2 linked regions of the Homo sapiens genome follow. The protein of the gene in region 1 interacts with the protein of each later gene in a pairwise test. Each region holds a gene or a part of one and is shown on either strand. Other genes may lie near its edges.

What was found.
Region 2: the proteins of SYNPO (region 1) and CDC5L interact in binary tests that used the Homo sapiens proteins (3 or more experiments, as listed by UniProt).

What each region holds. Positions count from the first base shown.
Region 1 is NC_000005.10:150,636,338-150,643,803, forward strand, and holds the start of SYNPO (synaptopodin), read left to right. Parts: upstream 1-4,322; 5' UTR 4,323-4,517; intron 4,518-7,466. UniProt on the Homo sapiens protein: Actin-associated protein that may play a role in modulating actin-based shape and motility of dendritic spines and renal podocyte foot processes.
Region 2 is NC_000006.12:44,382,939-44,390,848, forward strand, and holds the start of CDC5L (cell division cycle 5-like protein), read left to right. Parts: upstream 1-4,767; 5' UTR 4,768-4,885; coding exon 4,886-4,930; exon of another isoform or gene 4,931-4,981; intron 4,982-7,329; coding exon 7,330-7,433; intron 7,434-7,910.

The sequences.
Region 1 (7,466 bases):
AATATCAAGGTACCACCTAAAATCCTTTTTGCTTCCATTAGTGGTGGGGGCACCACACTCTAGGAACCACCAGTCCAGTCCAATCCCTCCTTTGGACAAATTGGATGCACTGAGGCCCCAAGAGGGTCAGGGATCAGCCCAGTGTCTCACCCAAATTGTGACAGGACAGACCCTGGAACCAAATCTCCTGACTTCTAGTCTTCTTTTCTTTTATAATTTGAGGGAAACATGGAGGGCAGGACTGCATGATTCAGCCTCTCCCTGGCAGGAGACTCCTCCTGTTGGAGTGGGGCCAGACCTGCCTGGTAATTGGTGAATGGCAGCAGAGGAGAGGGCCATGGCAGGGTCAGCAGCCTCCAGCACCCCAGAGCCATGGTGTCCTCCTCTGAGGGGGCCTGGGGTTCAAAACTGGTTCTGGCTAGAAGTGACATGGGGATCCCCTGTGCAGAGAGAACGCGGGGTGGGGGGTGTTGGGAAGGGGGATGGGGTTGGACTGTGTCTGATAATGAGCAGAAGAGTGAGACCAGACCCAGAGAGGGGTGGTGAAGACAGGGAGAGAGACAGATACAGCCCCAGCCTGGTCGAGTTACGCAGAGGTGGGTGTGTGCAAAAGCCTACAGTTAACCACCCCCCAATGTGTGCACAGTGCTTTATACTTTAGAAATCATTGCTGCATTTCATTTACTCAGCAGCTACTCTGCAAAGCAGATATTATTATCCCTGTTTTACTGATGATGAAGTTGAGACTCAGAGAGGTGAAGTGATTTACTGAAGGTAGCCCAGCAATTTGAATAGGATGCCTTGCTGAGCCATAGATGGGGGAAGAACTGGCTGCACCTCTGATTGGATTTGGTAAAGGAGGGCTGTCTGTGGGAGGAGCGGGCAGGCTGAATGGATTCGGGAGTGAGGGGCCGGCTGGAAACCCACAATCCACTCACTGGCCAAATAACCTTGACAAATCACAAAACCTTTCTTTTTGAGGCTCAGTTTCCTCATCTGTAAAATGGGAATAATGGTACTCCCTAACTCACAGCCTGTGAGGATAAAATAAAACAACATGATGAAAAATGATAACACTGAAACCGAATGCCTCGCACATTAGAAGTGCTCAGTAAGCAGCAACTTGAGTAATGAACATGATTGCACCCGGCCCCTGAGGAGTTTGCACACGGTGACCACCTGCCACGACTGAGGGATTCCCAGCGCCTTCTTTGGCAGCTGTGAGCGCGCCTGAGACCCCGTCTGGGGAACCCGCAGGGGTTGGGGGCAGGTTTGTCTGTCCCAGAGCCCCAGGCTGGTGATGACGCCTCCTGGGGATAAACCTCATCTCTCTGTTGTTTACCCCATGTGCGGTGACTTTGTCATTATCGTTCCTCCTGCGTTTTTTCTTTGAGTTATTTATTTTTCTGTGAGGAAGGAATGTGGGGAATTTACCACAGGGCGCTGTCCTTCACTTTCAGCTGGGCTGCACGGCGTCCTTTCCTATAAGAAGGAAGCTGCTGAGACAGATGGCAGGAGAGGTGGAGGCGGAGGGTCCCAGCTGGCTCTGTGGCCCAAGGAGTTGGGGGCAGTTATGTAACCCACCCGGAGGCCCAGGTTCTGGTCTCCGGGCATGAGCCTGGTAATGTACATAGCTCCTGTGGAACTGTGCCTAGCCCTCCCCATTCACCCCTGGCCTCTGGGCAAGCCCAGTGGGTGTGTTCCTCTATCAAAGTTTCCTTTCTATTCAGCTGGTCTTGATTTGGGGTATGGGGGTAGGTAGGGGAGTGGGGTGGGGGTTATCTTGAACCTCCTAGTCTCTGCTGAGCTATCATCATTGCTTAGAATGCTTCCTTATCTCCATCTTTCAAGAGCTAGGACATATGTCACCTCCTCCAGGAAGACTTCCTGGATTGCTTCATCCTAATTCATCTTTCTCTTAGGTTGTATGTTCTCCCCTCACTTCATGAAACATTCTTCCCCTTAGGTCTAACACAGTGATTTGAGATTTCATCTCCTTCCCTCACAAACGTGTTGCTCTCTCCTTCCTTCTCCTCCCACTCCCAGGAACCACCCTCTAGATCTTTGATCTAGAATCTAGATGAATCTTGGATTTAGACAAATCTAAAATTCATCTCCAGGGATGAATGGTGAAGCAAAATGTGAAGGGGGAGGCTTTGGATTCTGGAAGTGCTTGTCCTTTAGTAGTTTATTTAATCAACACAGTGATGGTTTCAACCCCTCCTGGGTGATGGCTTCTGCTGAGTCTGGGGACATTTACAGAGGACAGAGACCAGTCCTGGCCCTAGGCTGGCACAGGGCTAAGGGGAAGGACCACATCTTTGTGGCGGGCCCAGAGTGTGTCAGGCCCTGGGAAGAGTGGAGGGGACCCGCAGATGACCTAGGCCCTGCCCTGACCCTGGCAGAGGCACTGTTTAGGGGAAACCACCTCTTTCCCTGCCCTGGCTTGCCACCTTTTTGTCTTTTAGATTATGTGTTTTCTCTGGAAAGGCAGGGTATGATGGTTCTTTCTGTACTCCCAAGGCTTCCAGGGAGCTGGGGCTGGGGAGAGTGAAACAGCAGGAGGGGGCTTCGTGAGCACAGGCTTAGCTCACCAGGGTTGGACTGGAGAGGTGGAAGCCTGGGCTGTGATCCTGTGATCCTCTCTGTGAGCCCTCCCTTTTCAGTTTGCTGTATACCTGGGGCTCAGCTTGCCTCTCTCTGGGTTACCATCTCAAAGTTTCTAAAAATTGACTGATTATAGATTAATAATTACCCCAGTAGAATGGGCAAGAGAGAGGCTGTGGCTCCTGGCCTTTGGCAGGGCCCTGGTCAGCCAACAGGGAGCAGGGCTTGTGGTCTGCAAGGATAGAAGATGGGTCAGGCTTGCGCTGACTGTGGAGCCCTCATCTTAGCTTCCCCTTACCCATCCATCTCTGCCCTCCCTGATCCCGACCCACTGCCAGCAGAGAGAAACCAGAAGTTTGGCCAGGCCCAGCCTCCTTCCCCTGGGTTTCTGAGTTTTCTCAACCTGCCGTTTCCTCTGAGCTCTGTTCCTGCTCTGGGGCCTCTGGGCCAGGTTGAACAGGGGAGGAGCACTGATCTAGGAGTCTGAATGGATTGATGAGGGCTTCCTACAAGAAGTGGCCGTTGGGCTGGGCCTGGATGGGTGAGTAAGGAAGGTGAATTTGCTTTGTGGGGAGCTCTTCAGAAGGAAGGCGTCCAGGCTTGAGATCAGTCAGACCGCAGGGGCCCCTTGCTAAGCTGTGAGACCTGGGGTGAGTTAGCTGCTTCTGTGTGCCTCATCTTCCTTATCTACAAAATGGGGATAAGGGAACCTCCTCTATGAGTTGCTGTGAGGATTAAATGAAAAAAGGCATGTTAAACCCTTGGCTTGGCAGCATCTGGTGCTCCCAAAATGTTGGCTCTTGTCATTCTCATAGATTTCATGTTTATTCTGCAAGTGCCAATGGAAGATGTGGTGGGGACAAGGGAGGAATACCGAAGTGAAGCAGTAGAGGCCCCTGCCCTCGAGGCCGTTGCAGTCTCTGGGGGAAAATAGGGCCCAGACCCTCATTGCTACAAAGCAAAACACTGGGAGGGGGCAGCATGGCCCACGTGACTGGCCCTGCACTGGGCATTAGGCCAACCTGGGCTTGAATTTCAGCTCTTCCTCTGGCTGGCTGTGTGACCTTGAGCAAGTTGCTGCACCCCTCTGAGCCAGCGTCTTCTCTAATATGGAGATGAGGATAGTGCTGGCCTCATGGGTTGCTGTGGAAGTAAGTGAAGTAAGGCCCTGTCCTGCTACCTGGCATGTGGTGAGTATACCCTGAAAGATTACTTTTACTAGAATAAATAATACACAAGGTGGTGGTTATTAAGTGATGCAGACAGAACATTGGTGAAGGCTTTTTGGAGGGGGTGGTGGCATTCTAGGTAGGCCGGAAATCTGAAGGATTAGGGCATGTAGAAAGGATGTGAGACAGAGGAGGGTTCCCGGTAGAGGGGGTCTGTGCAAACGCTGCTTTGCAGGCAGGAATTCATTGGGCAGCTGTGGGAACTGCAAGCCACTGAACTCCCTCCACTGTTGCTGAGGGCACAGAGAGAAGGTGAGTGAGCTCTTGGGCAGGCCCCGATAGCAGGGGTTTGAATGCCAGGATGAGGACTCTCCTCTTGATCCTCCATGTCCTGGGGAGGCAGCAGAGGGTTTTGAGCAGGAGAGAGGCATGAGTGGAGCCCGGAGGGAGGAAGATGAATCTGGCAGCGTGGGGCGGGTAGATTGGCGGGGGAGAGACTGGGGGTGGAGAGGCCATTTAAAAGGCTGTTGCAAAATCGGTTTTCCTGATAAAGAGCTGGGCTGAGTCATCTGTGGAGGAGAAAAGTCACATCCAGCTCCTTCATGTTGCTGCCGATGTGGGATTTTCCTGGCTTCGTCAGCCAAGCAATTGGCTGCCTTTGCCGGAGGCTTTGAGAACCAAGGCTTGAAGGCCGGCAGGAGCATCCAGGGGGAAGCTTGGCTTCAGGGAGGACCTAGCAGAGTGAGTAAGATGAGCACCCGGAGGTGCCTTTGTGGCTTGGGGTATATGACTTAGGGCATGTGGCATCCCCCCTCTGATCTTAGTCTGTCCTCTGGGCATCAAGGGAGAGGTATGTGGTGATTTCTGCCAGCCTGTGAGTGGTGAGGCGGGGGCTGGGCCTGGGGCTCCCCACCCCATTTCTGTGTCTTCTCCCATGCCCGGCAGTCCTTCCCACCAAAGTCTAGATTGTTCTCCTCCCAAGAGGAGGTCTGGCAGTCTGCCGACCCCAGTCAGATTGCGCTCGCCATGACTCTGGGGATGGAGAATTCTCCAGGGCATGGAGCCTGTGTCATTTCCTCCTTTCAGTGGGAGGAATGGGGAAGGGGCTGGCAAGGTAGCCAGGCCATTACTCAGGCCTCTCCATTTTCCTGCCCCCAGCTGAGCCAGAGGTTGTGCAGTGGCCAGTCATTGGTTCCTTCCTGACCTCACCAGGGGGGCAGTTTACCCAGCCTGTTTACCCTTCCTGTCGCCAAGACCCCTGGACTACCACAATGGGCTGCCTTGAGCCAATCTCTATTCCTACCCCTGGCTCTCTGTCCCACCCCGCCCCACCTGACCCTGGCTGGACACTCCCATTGACGGCATCGTGTGAAGAAGCATTTCCTTGAATTCTCCCTGTCCTGACCTTCTGCTCTGGCCTCCCTTCCCCGGCCCCACCTCCCTCCTGTGGATCCTCCATCCACACGGGCCCCAGTGGTGGGCAGAACAAGCAGCTGTCCACAGTGGGTGGTAGGGGTGGGGGAAAGGGTTTGTCCCTTTCTACGCCAAACAAGAACTGGGGTCTTCTGACTCCCAACATAGTGATCTTCCCACTCTACTCATCTTTCATGCCTTATCAGTCCTTTCTACCTTAGTAAGAATGAGTTTATCAACTCTTCTCCTGAAAGGAAGAAGTGGAAGAAAGAAGGAGTTGTTCTAGGCAGCTGGGTTTTCAGGGGAGAAGACATTGCTGAGGGGCATTGATCACAAGATGAGGGAGCAGAGGGCTTTGCAGACCATCATCCAAGAGCACTGGAGCCTCTCTTGTTTCTCCTCTTTCCAGAGTCCTAGTCTGGAAGGAGAATAGTTAAGAGATTAGACTCAGAGCCAGACTTTTCTGAGTTTGGATTCCAGCTCTGCCACTCATAAGTTGTGTGACCCTGGGCAGGTCTCTCTGAGCCCCAGTTTCATCTGCAGAATGAGAAGAATCACAGGACTTATGTCTGGGAGCTGTTGTAAGAACTGAACAAGGTGGTGAGCATAAAGTGCACAGCACTGAGCCTGGGCTGCAGCAGGGGCTCAGTAGTGACAGCAGTCGTTGCAAAGCCCCTTCTCATGGCTGTGCTGGGGCTTCTCGCCTACTCCCCCACTTCAGGATTTACCCTGTTGGACCCAGGTCTCCTGACCCCAGGCAGCTTTTCATTGTGCCCGCCCTCCACCCCTTCCTCTCTTGAAGGCCTATCTTCAGGGCTCCTGATCCAGTGTCCAGGGTGGGTCTTTAAAGGGCTAGCACCCCAACTTGGCCCTGCAGAAGTTTAGGTGGGGAGGCGGTGGGGACATCATGACTTGCACAAGTGCAGGCCACAGCCAGGCCGATTGAGGGTTCAATGAGGTACCTGTCCCCTGTAGCCTTTGGCTACCTCCCCACCCCCACCTTTGACACCAAGAGCATGATCTTGAGCAGCTGCTGCCTGGGATATTGCCAGAGAGGGCAGCTCCCTAGTCTGAGGAATTTTAGATGGAGTTGCCCCCTGGTGCCCTGCTACGAGGGACTCTAGGGTGTCCCCCCGCCTCCCCAGCTTTGTTTGTGAAGGGTGGCGAAAATCATCTGGATGGCTGGCTGGATCTGGTCCAAACCTCCTGCTGAATTCCTTTTCCATGGAGTCACTGTGGGCTGGAGTGCGGGCTGCAGGAGCTTGCCTTGGAGGGCAGGGCTCTCTTACCTCCTGGCCTTTTCTGCCATTCCTCTTGTTCCAGAACAGTAGCTTGGGAGCAGTTCTAAGCTCAGAGAGGTGGTGGTGATGGGATCTTAGCGGCAGCCCAGGTTGTGCATGGAGCCTCACTGAGAGTCAGCTGACCTGGTCTTGGGCTCACATCCTCCTCTCTGACCTCTTCCTTGGCTGGGCCTCCCAGGCCAGCTTATTTCTAAAGGCCCTTCATATTCTGACATTTGAGGATTTTCTAAACCCATGGCCTTCTAGAGCCAGTAAGGAGAAAAGCAGAAAAATGCAGGGGCATTGAGAGGTCTGGAGTAATCAAACACTGAAGTGCTTTCTATGAGCCTTGCAAGGTGGGAACCGGCCAGCCAGGAGCCTGGTGCTCTCTGCAGTAACGTAGAGCCAGGTGTGAACAGAGCTCTACTCCTTCTGGCTCTGTGATCGTGGGCAGCTCACTTTACCTCTCTGAGCCGTAGATTTCTCATCAATAAAGTGTGCATAATAATAGTTTGTGATTTGTAGGTTTGTTTTGGAAATTAAATAATATGAGTAAAGTCTGTGTATAGGTGTACAGTAAGTGACCAATCAATATTAGCTACTATTGCTGCAACTGTGTCATAAGAAACACTGGCAGGACTAGAGATGTTTATCCTGACCCTGTCCCAAGGGGATCTGATGTATCTGCAAATCTCTGCAGGGCTGTCAGGCTGGAATGAAAGAGAAAACTTTTTGTTGTTGTTGTTGAGATGGAATGTCGCTCTGTTGCCCAGGCTGCAGTGCAGTGGCGTGATCTCGGCTCACCGCAACCTCTGCCTCCCTAGTTCAAGCGATTCTTTTGCCTCAGCCTCCCAAGTAGCTGGGATTACAGGCGCCCGCCACCACGCTTGGCTAATTTTTGTATTTTTAGTAGAGATGGGGTTTCACCATATTGGCCAGGCTGGTCTCGAACTCCTGACCTCGTGATCCACCTGCCTTGGCCCCCCAAAATGCTAGG
Region 2 (7,910 bases), on another chromosome or scaffold:
TAACGATGCGTTTCTCAGAATGTATCCCTGTCATTGACACATGACTGCATTTGCAAAGCAGGACAGTATTTTTATTTAAATTATTATGCATGTTTATTTGGGGAGATGATGAAGATTGTGAGAGTCATTAATCCTGCCTCTAAACTATGCCTTGCTGTTGCCATAGGCTTTTGCCCCTAATTTTAGCCCTTTCCTGCATAGTTTCTTGGTGGTGAAAAAACTGGATGAAAGGGAAACTAGAATTTTGATTACTTTCTCTGCTAAGTAAATGTCAATCCATTCAGAACCAGCTACCCAGAGAGGGGTGAGGGGTAGGGAAATGGGGACAATGCAACCTAAAAATCCTCCTGCTAACATCTCTGGTTCCCCTTTGTAAGTTGGATGGACTTCTAACCTCTTTTTCCTGAGCCAGAGTTTCCCAAATTGTGTTTCCTGAGTGTCAATGGATATATAACACAAAAGGTTTTTAGGGTCAAATTAGTTTGGAAATGCTATATAGTAAGTCCTCATTTTTATCATTGTTAGGTTTTTGGAAACTGCAACTTTAAGCAAAAGGATGTATCATGTAATCAATTTTACCATAGGCTAATTGATATAAACAAGAGTTAAGTTTCTATGGCATATTTCTGGTCACAAAACATCAACGAACTTCTAAACAAAGACCAAAACACTTCTAATATTAAACATTGAAATAAGTGTAAGCTATGCATACATTTAAGAAAGATTAGGCTGGGCACGGTGGCTCATACCTGTAATTTCAGCACCTTGGGAGGTCAAGGGGGGCAGATCACTTGAGCTCAGGAGTTTGAGACCAGCCTGGGCAACATGGTGAAACCCCATTTCTACAAAAAAATACAAAACTTAGCCAGGCATGGGGGTGCACGCCTGTAGTCCCAGCTACTCGGGAGGCTGAAGTTGGAAGATTGCTTGAGCCAGTGGGGTGGGGGTCAAGGCTGCAGTGACCCGAGACTGTGGCACTGCACTCCAGCCTGCACAGAGTGAGACTCTGTCTCAAAGAAAAGAAAAGAAAAGAAAGATTAATAAAAACAAGAAATGTACTCCCGCTTATTCCAGTTCAGGGTTACAGGTGGCCGGAGCCTATCCTGGCACAAGGCAGGAATCAGTTCTGGACAGCACACAGGACACCATCCCATTGCAGGGCACACTCACACACCCTGACACTCACTCAGACTGCAGGCTTGCAAATGAACCTCACCTGCACAGCTTTGGGATGTGGGAGGAAACCAGGGTATCTGGAAGAAACCCACACAGACAGTGGCCCTGGCCTCAAGCGGATTTTTTTTTTTTTTTGAGATGAGGTCTCGCCCAGGGTGGAGTGCAGTGGTGTGATCATGGCTCACTGCAGCCTCGACCACCCAGGCTCAAGTGATCCTCCCATCTCAGCCTCATGGGTAGCTGGGATCACAGGTGTGCACCACCATGCCCAGCTAATTTTTAATATTTTTGTAGGGATGGGGTCTCACTATGTTGCTCAGGCTGGTCTCAAACTCCTGGGCTCAAGCAATCCTCCTGCCTTGGCCTCCCCGAGTGTTGGAATTACGGGCATGAGCCACCATGCCTGGACTCATCAATGTTATCATGAAACGATCTTGCACAAAATGATGTTATTCAAGGATCTGCTGTATTAACAAAGGAGTGTATTAGCTTCCTAGGGCTGCCACAAGAAAGCACAATAAACTAAGTGGCTTAAAACAAGAGAAATGTATTCTCTTACAGTTCTGGAGGCTGGGAGTCCAAAATCAAAGTGTCAGCAGGGCTGGCTCCTTCTTGGGGCTCAGAGGGAGAATGTGTTCCATGCCTTCTCCTGGCTTCTGGTGGCTGCCAGAATCCTTGGCATTCCTTGGCTTGGAGCTGCATCACTCCAATCTCTGCCTCTTTCTTCCCATGATATTCCCCCTGTGTGTCTGTATCTTTTTTCTTCTCCACTTATAAGGACACTACTCATTGGATTTAGGGACAACCTACTCCAGTATGATCTCATTTTAACTTGATTACATCTGCAAAGACTCTATTTCCAAATAAGGTCACATTTACAGGTAGCAGGGGTTAGGACTTGAACATATCTATTTGGGGGGAATACAATTCAACTCTCAACAGGGAGAAACAGATTTTTTCATCTGACAGCTTCTTACAGGCTTTAATTTCAGTGACTCTGCAAGAGGGGAGGACATAAAAACCATGTTTTTTTTTATTTTTTGTTTTTTTTTAAATGGAGTATTTTATGTAACTGGTGTTCTAAGGAACATGTTTGGGGAAAAATGCCTTGGGTGAGTGAGACTATTTAGCAGTGGCCACTCACTTTACCAAAGATTCACAGTGACTGACCATATAGTCTGGTTGCCTAACGATAGATGCTTCTTATGGCTGTCCCTCAAGAGATTGTTGGCAGTCCCTGTGGCCTCTTTGTAAGGGTTCCCATACCTGGCTGGTGAGGCTGCAGTAGTATGGTGGGGGAGGCTGGCCAAGCAGGCCATCCTGGAGAACAGTGTGTTTGTGTTCTGATGTTTGTGGCTACAGTGCTCTGGTTTCAGACATCCTGGAACTTCCATGATGTTGCATTTTTCTGAATTCTGAAAGGGAATATACAATCTGCATGTTCAAAGGTGAAATGAGGGACAGTTGACAGGGCTGTTTTACCTGGATGAGTAAGTTGTACAATGCATGTCTCTAGGGGTGGAATTCACATAGTGGAGATGGTAGATCCAATTTTCTTGTAATAGAGTGCCCTGTTCTCAGAACACCAGTATTTTGTGACAATTTTCCAGCATGTGGCATAAAGTGTCTTGAGGAAGGGGCACCTTTTTCTAGTTCTCACAAAAGTAACATATGGTAAAGAGGTGGCCCTGAGTGGGAGGGAGAAGCCTTCATCAACTCTTGGAATGTGAGATCTGAAAGGCCTCTGACAGAGTATTGGTCCATCTCTGGAATTGTTAGGACTCTTCCTTACAAATAATAGAAACCCAATTCCAAGTGGCTAACACAAATAGGAAACTAATAATCAGAATGCAAGGACAGGAATGCAGCTGGGACTCAGGAACATGCTGGATCCAGGTACTCTGACATGGTCAGGACTTACATCTCTCTCTTTACCTGCTTTTTTCCCTTAGTCCAAAACATGGTGGTAGACAACTCCTGGGTGTCACGTGTTGGATGTTCAGCAGTCAGTAGAGACTGACCTCCTCTATGCTCCAGTGTTAAAATCTCGAAGACCTAGTATTTGATAGCACAACAGGGTGACTATAGTAAAAAATAATTTAATTGTACATTTAAATTAACTAAAAGATTATAATTGGATTGTTTGTAAAACAAAAGATAAACACTTGAGATGATGGATACCCCATTTACCCTGATGTGATTATTATGTGTTGTATGCCAGTATCAAAATATCTCATGTACCCCATAAATATGTGTGTACTATGTACCCACAAAAATTAAATATAACAAATTAAAAAAAAACCGCCCCATTACAGGAGAGGTCCAAATGAAAACATTTTGTTTGAGTTTAACTGGCCACAGGTCCAATGGTTTCTTATACACCACACAGTGGGTAAACAGCTCAAGGGCGGGCTGCCCGCCAGCATAAACCTTTGAGTGGCAAACACTACCAGGGTGGCCATGGAAAATGCCCTCTTGCTGACCATAATTGCACAGAATGTGTGTAAATAAAAGCTAAAAGGAAAAAGAAAATTCTGTAGCTCTTCCAGAAGAGGCAAACGGAGAAATGAAGAAATATAAAGAGATAGGCACTATATAAATACTAAGTACTATAAATAGGGCATTTCCCAACCCACTAAATATTTTGATATTTTCCAGGGATGGAGCCAGAGATGTTCTGGAAGGATGAAGGAGACTGCATGAGTAATTGGGGTGGGGTAGCAGAGAGTTTGCCAATCCCTACCTCACTGGGTTTTAGTTATGTTTCAGTTAATCTGCCTCCTCATTTACGAGGCGGGTATTGTTAGCTCCACTTTTCAGATGAGGATACTGAGATTCAGTAAGGTTATTACCCAAACTTATGAGAAAGCCAAGATTTCACAATATTTCAACCCAACTCGACTTTGTCTAATACCAGTGCGTACCAATGGCATTATTAATCCAGACTGGGCGATGAATTAAAAACTCTGACGTGACGTTTCTGCAGGTTTCTGGAAGAAGCCTGGATCACCTGGGGACGGGGTGAAGTTGGCGTTGCCCTCCTTGCAGTAATAGCTGCTATTGTTTTGCAGCAGTTATTATGGATCAGATACTGTGCTGGGTCTATGATCTCATTTAGCCCTTACGACAATCCTGTGAGGTTGGCATTACTATGATCTCTATTTTACAGGTTAGGAAACTGAGCCTTAAATAAACTACTGGATTTTCCTGAGTATTCTGTGAATAAATTCCTATTACTGAAATACTTGAAAGGGCTAGATTAATAAATTAACAAAGCCTTCTTCGGAGCAACTGTGCTGAAATTCCGTACGCGTGACGTTCCCACCCTCTGCCACTCGGTGACGTCACGATCAATCCCACCACTAAGTTCCCAGCCAAGCGCTACCGCCGCTATCTCGCGAGAGCCGTAGTTTCTTCCATTCTGTTTTGGACATGCGCGGGGCGTAAGGCGCTTTGGCCAGAGTGGTTTGATGGTTTTGTGTTAGTCTTCCTGCAGCTGAGCTTCCACAAGACACTTTTTCCCTTTCAGCCACCCAATATCTCGCGAGACTTGCTATTCTGCGCCCCCTCCCACCTTGCGCTTGCGCAGATCTTCAAAGCAGAAGGTCGCGCTTGGAGGAAGTGGCGGCTTTGAGTCCGGTGGCCCAATCGCTGTTACTACTTCTCTGAAGCTCCTCTCGGCTGCTTGCCGAGACACCCTGCCGCCAAGATGCCTCGAATTATGATCAAGGGGGGCGTATGGAGGAATACCGAGGTAAGTCTCCTTTTCCCGCCGTCCGCTGCCCGCCGCTCCCTCTAGCAGCTTGTGCGCACGCGCGCGGAGGTCGGGGGGGCGACGAGGAGACCCTGTGGGGTCTGCGTGGAGGGCAGCCCGGGGGCTGACCCTTGGGGCCCTTTCCGTGTGTCTGGCCCCGTGTTGTGCGAGCGCCAGTAGGACAGGGACCGTGATGTCACCACCTGGCTACTCGGCTCCAAGCTCACTTGTTAGGCCCTGAGTGAACATTTGTTGACTTGAATACGCCCCCTCCCACCCCGCCCCCCCGCCCCCCCCGGCCCCGGGAAGAACTCAGAGTTCCAACTCAGCCAGAGTTGGTCCCCCGGGGCACCATCCACTCTTAGTCCAGGCACCACGACTCTGTCTCATACTCAGAAATAAAGAAGTTGCCGTGGCCACAACTTTGTGTCTCCATTGACTTCCTTGCAGAGGGGAAGCAGTTTGAGTGCCAGGTTCAGAGAGCCCGTTTATGCCCGCATCTCTCTGGTTATCTGTTATCAGGGCATAACCTGTCTGCCATCTCGACAGATCCCAAGGTCTGTCTCTTTCTGTCACTGCCTTTGCCTAGATAGAAGCCAGAAAGGAAAAACTGGCCTAGGATAGTCTCTGTTTCCAGAAACGTAGTGGATAGTGCCATTGGTGAGCCAAAGGGCAGTAGAGTGGGAGTGAAATAGAAATTAGATTTTAGTGCGTTTTGTGTTCAGAGTGTACCGAATTTATCAGTTTCTGGAGCACATCATGTCTTTTCATGCTCTGTGTCTTTTTTTCGTTACATTTTATGGCTTCTTTTTTTTTTTTTTTTTACATCTTTTGCCTTCCTAGCGCTTGACATCTTTCTGATCATCCTTCAAACCTAGTTCGGAAACACTTCTTGGAATCTCTGTAAGAATTAATTGCACCCCCGATATTCTCATGATACCTTTTTCTTCCGTTTGTTAAAACTTGCTTTGTCTTTTTGTAAGCATCACATCCTCTGTGTGGTACTCGGTAAGTTTCTTAACTTCTGAAAGCCTCAGTTTTCTACTTTTTCTAAATTGGGATAATAATACTTAACCTCTCTTGAGGATTACACGAGTTAATACGTTTGGAATATTTAGATCAGAGTAGGGCACATAGTAGCCTCTGAGTAAGAGCTAGTTGCTCTTTCACCTCACCAGACAGCATGGCGAGAGGACCAGGTCTTGGTATCCCTAGGACCTAGGACAGTAACCAACATGAAGTAGGTTGCTCGACAGGTATTTGCAGAATGAATCAAGTAGAGTAGGTATCTGCTGTATCTATTTAATTGAAAATGTGTTTAAGTGTAGTTGTACTGCAACCAAGTTACAAAAAAGACAATGAAAACTGCCTCAGCTTCCACCGAGGGAACCAGACTGTTTAAATTGGAGAAGAGATGACTTCTGAGGGAGAGACAGATATAAAATCAAGTAACAGTAGGATTCCTATGCAGTGGTCAAAGCTCTGCAGTCTTTTTAAAAAGTATCTTTGATCATGGGAGATGTAGAGGATGGAGTGGGGTATCTCAAGAGGCACGTACCTCAAATCCAATGTGGGAAAAAAAGCCTAGAAGTAAAATCGCCTAAGTGCATGCATCTATGGCTCCATTAACTTTCTTGTCTTTGGCTTGGCTTGCCAGGCTTCCTTGAGGTTGGTGCATTCCACATGGCAATGGGTGCCCTGGTGAAATGGTATCTAGAGATGGGGGGAAATTGGAAGGAGAGCTGACTAGTGGGGTTGGGGTAGAAATATGTAATTCTTAGGTTAGACCTGAGATGTGGATTCTTGGGTCATAGTTGGGGTTAAGGGGCTGGAGGGGAAATGCCATGTATAAACTTGAGACAGGAGGCTTGGATTGGAGAATATATTCACCAGAGTCCCAACTTGCTTCTTGAGGCCTGGATATGTCCTGTTTGATAAGACCTTTCCCCAAGGGAAAGGTAGATGTTTCAAGGTAGATGTTCAGGAAGTGTTTTTTGAGTGAGTGTATAAATGAATGAGTTATACATTTTTGTTGTTGTTGTGTTTTTTAGTTATCCTTTTTGAAGAGAAGGACAGCCACACGTTGAAGAATACTTTTTCTTAATTTTTGTCATAAAGTAGGGTTTCTCAGATTGGGCTGTTCCCACTCCCAATTTATTGGAGAGTGTGGTGTAAGGGTGGGTAGCTGTCTTTCTAAGGGATTTCTTCTTAATTTCTCAATTCTTGGTTGCTGTTATTATAGTTAATGAGGTTTTCATCCTTAGTCTTTTAACCTAGGTGGTGTGTATGTGCATGTTATATGTCTCTTTCTCCAATAGCCCTATCAGAGTTAATTTAAATTTTGTCTTTTCCCACTTGGAGTTTTGTGACTGAATGTACTCTTTGGCAATTTTTTTTAGGATGAAATTCTGAAAGCAGCGGTAATGAAATATGGGAAAAATCAGTGGTCTAGGATTGCCTCATTGCTGCATAGAAAATCAGCAAAGCAGTGCAAAGCCAGATGGTATGTATCAGTTTAATAAGTGGAAAACAGAAAAGGAGCTTAATTATGATGATGGAAAATGTCAACTCTGTGAACCTTATCAAAGAAAGCAGACATTGTAATATAACAAGGCATGGAGTGGGAGATGGAAGTTGGGTGTTTGACTTAGCTGTCACTTGCTTCCTGTGTGGTCTTAGGCAAGCCATTTTTCTATCCCTCTCCCCTGCCCTTGTTTTCTCCCAATTAGGGATAATAATACTTGGTCCTGACTGATAGAGATGTGAGTTGTCATCTAAATGGGTTAATGTATTTGAGAGTGCTTTGTGAAGCATACAAAGTCTACTTTCAGGGACAGATGAGCCCCAGCTTGTAAATTAATTGTGTTCTAAAAGTGCATAAGTTAGCTGTTTTAGAAATTACTTGCTCAAAGAAATAAATGATAAATAATGGCTAATTTTCTAAGTAAGCCTACAGTAGTTGAGTTTCCTCATAATACAG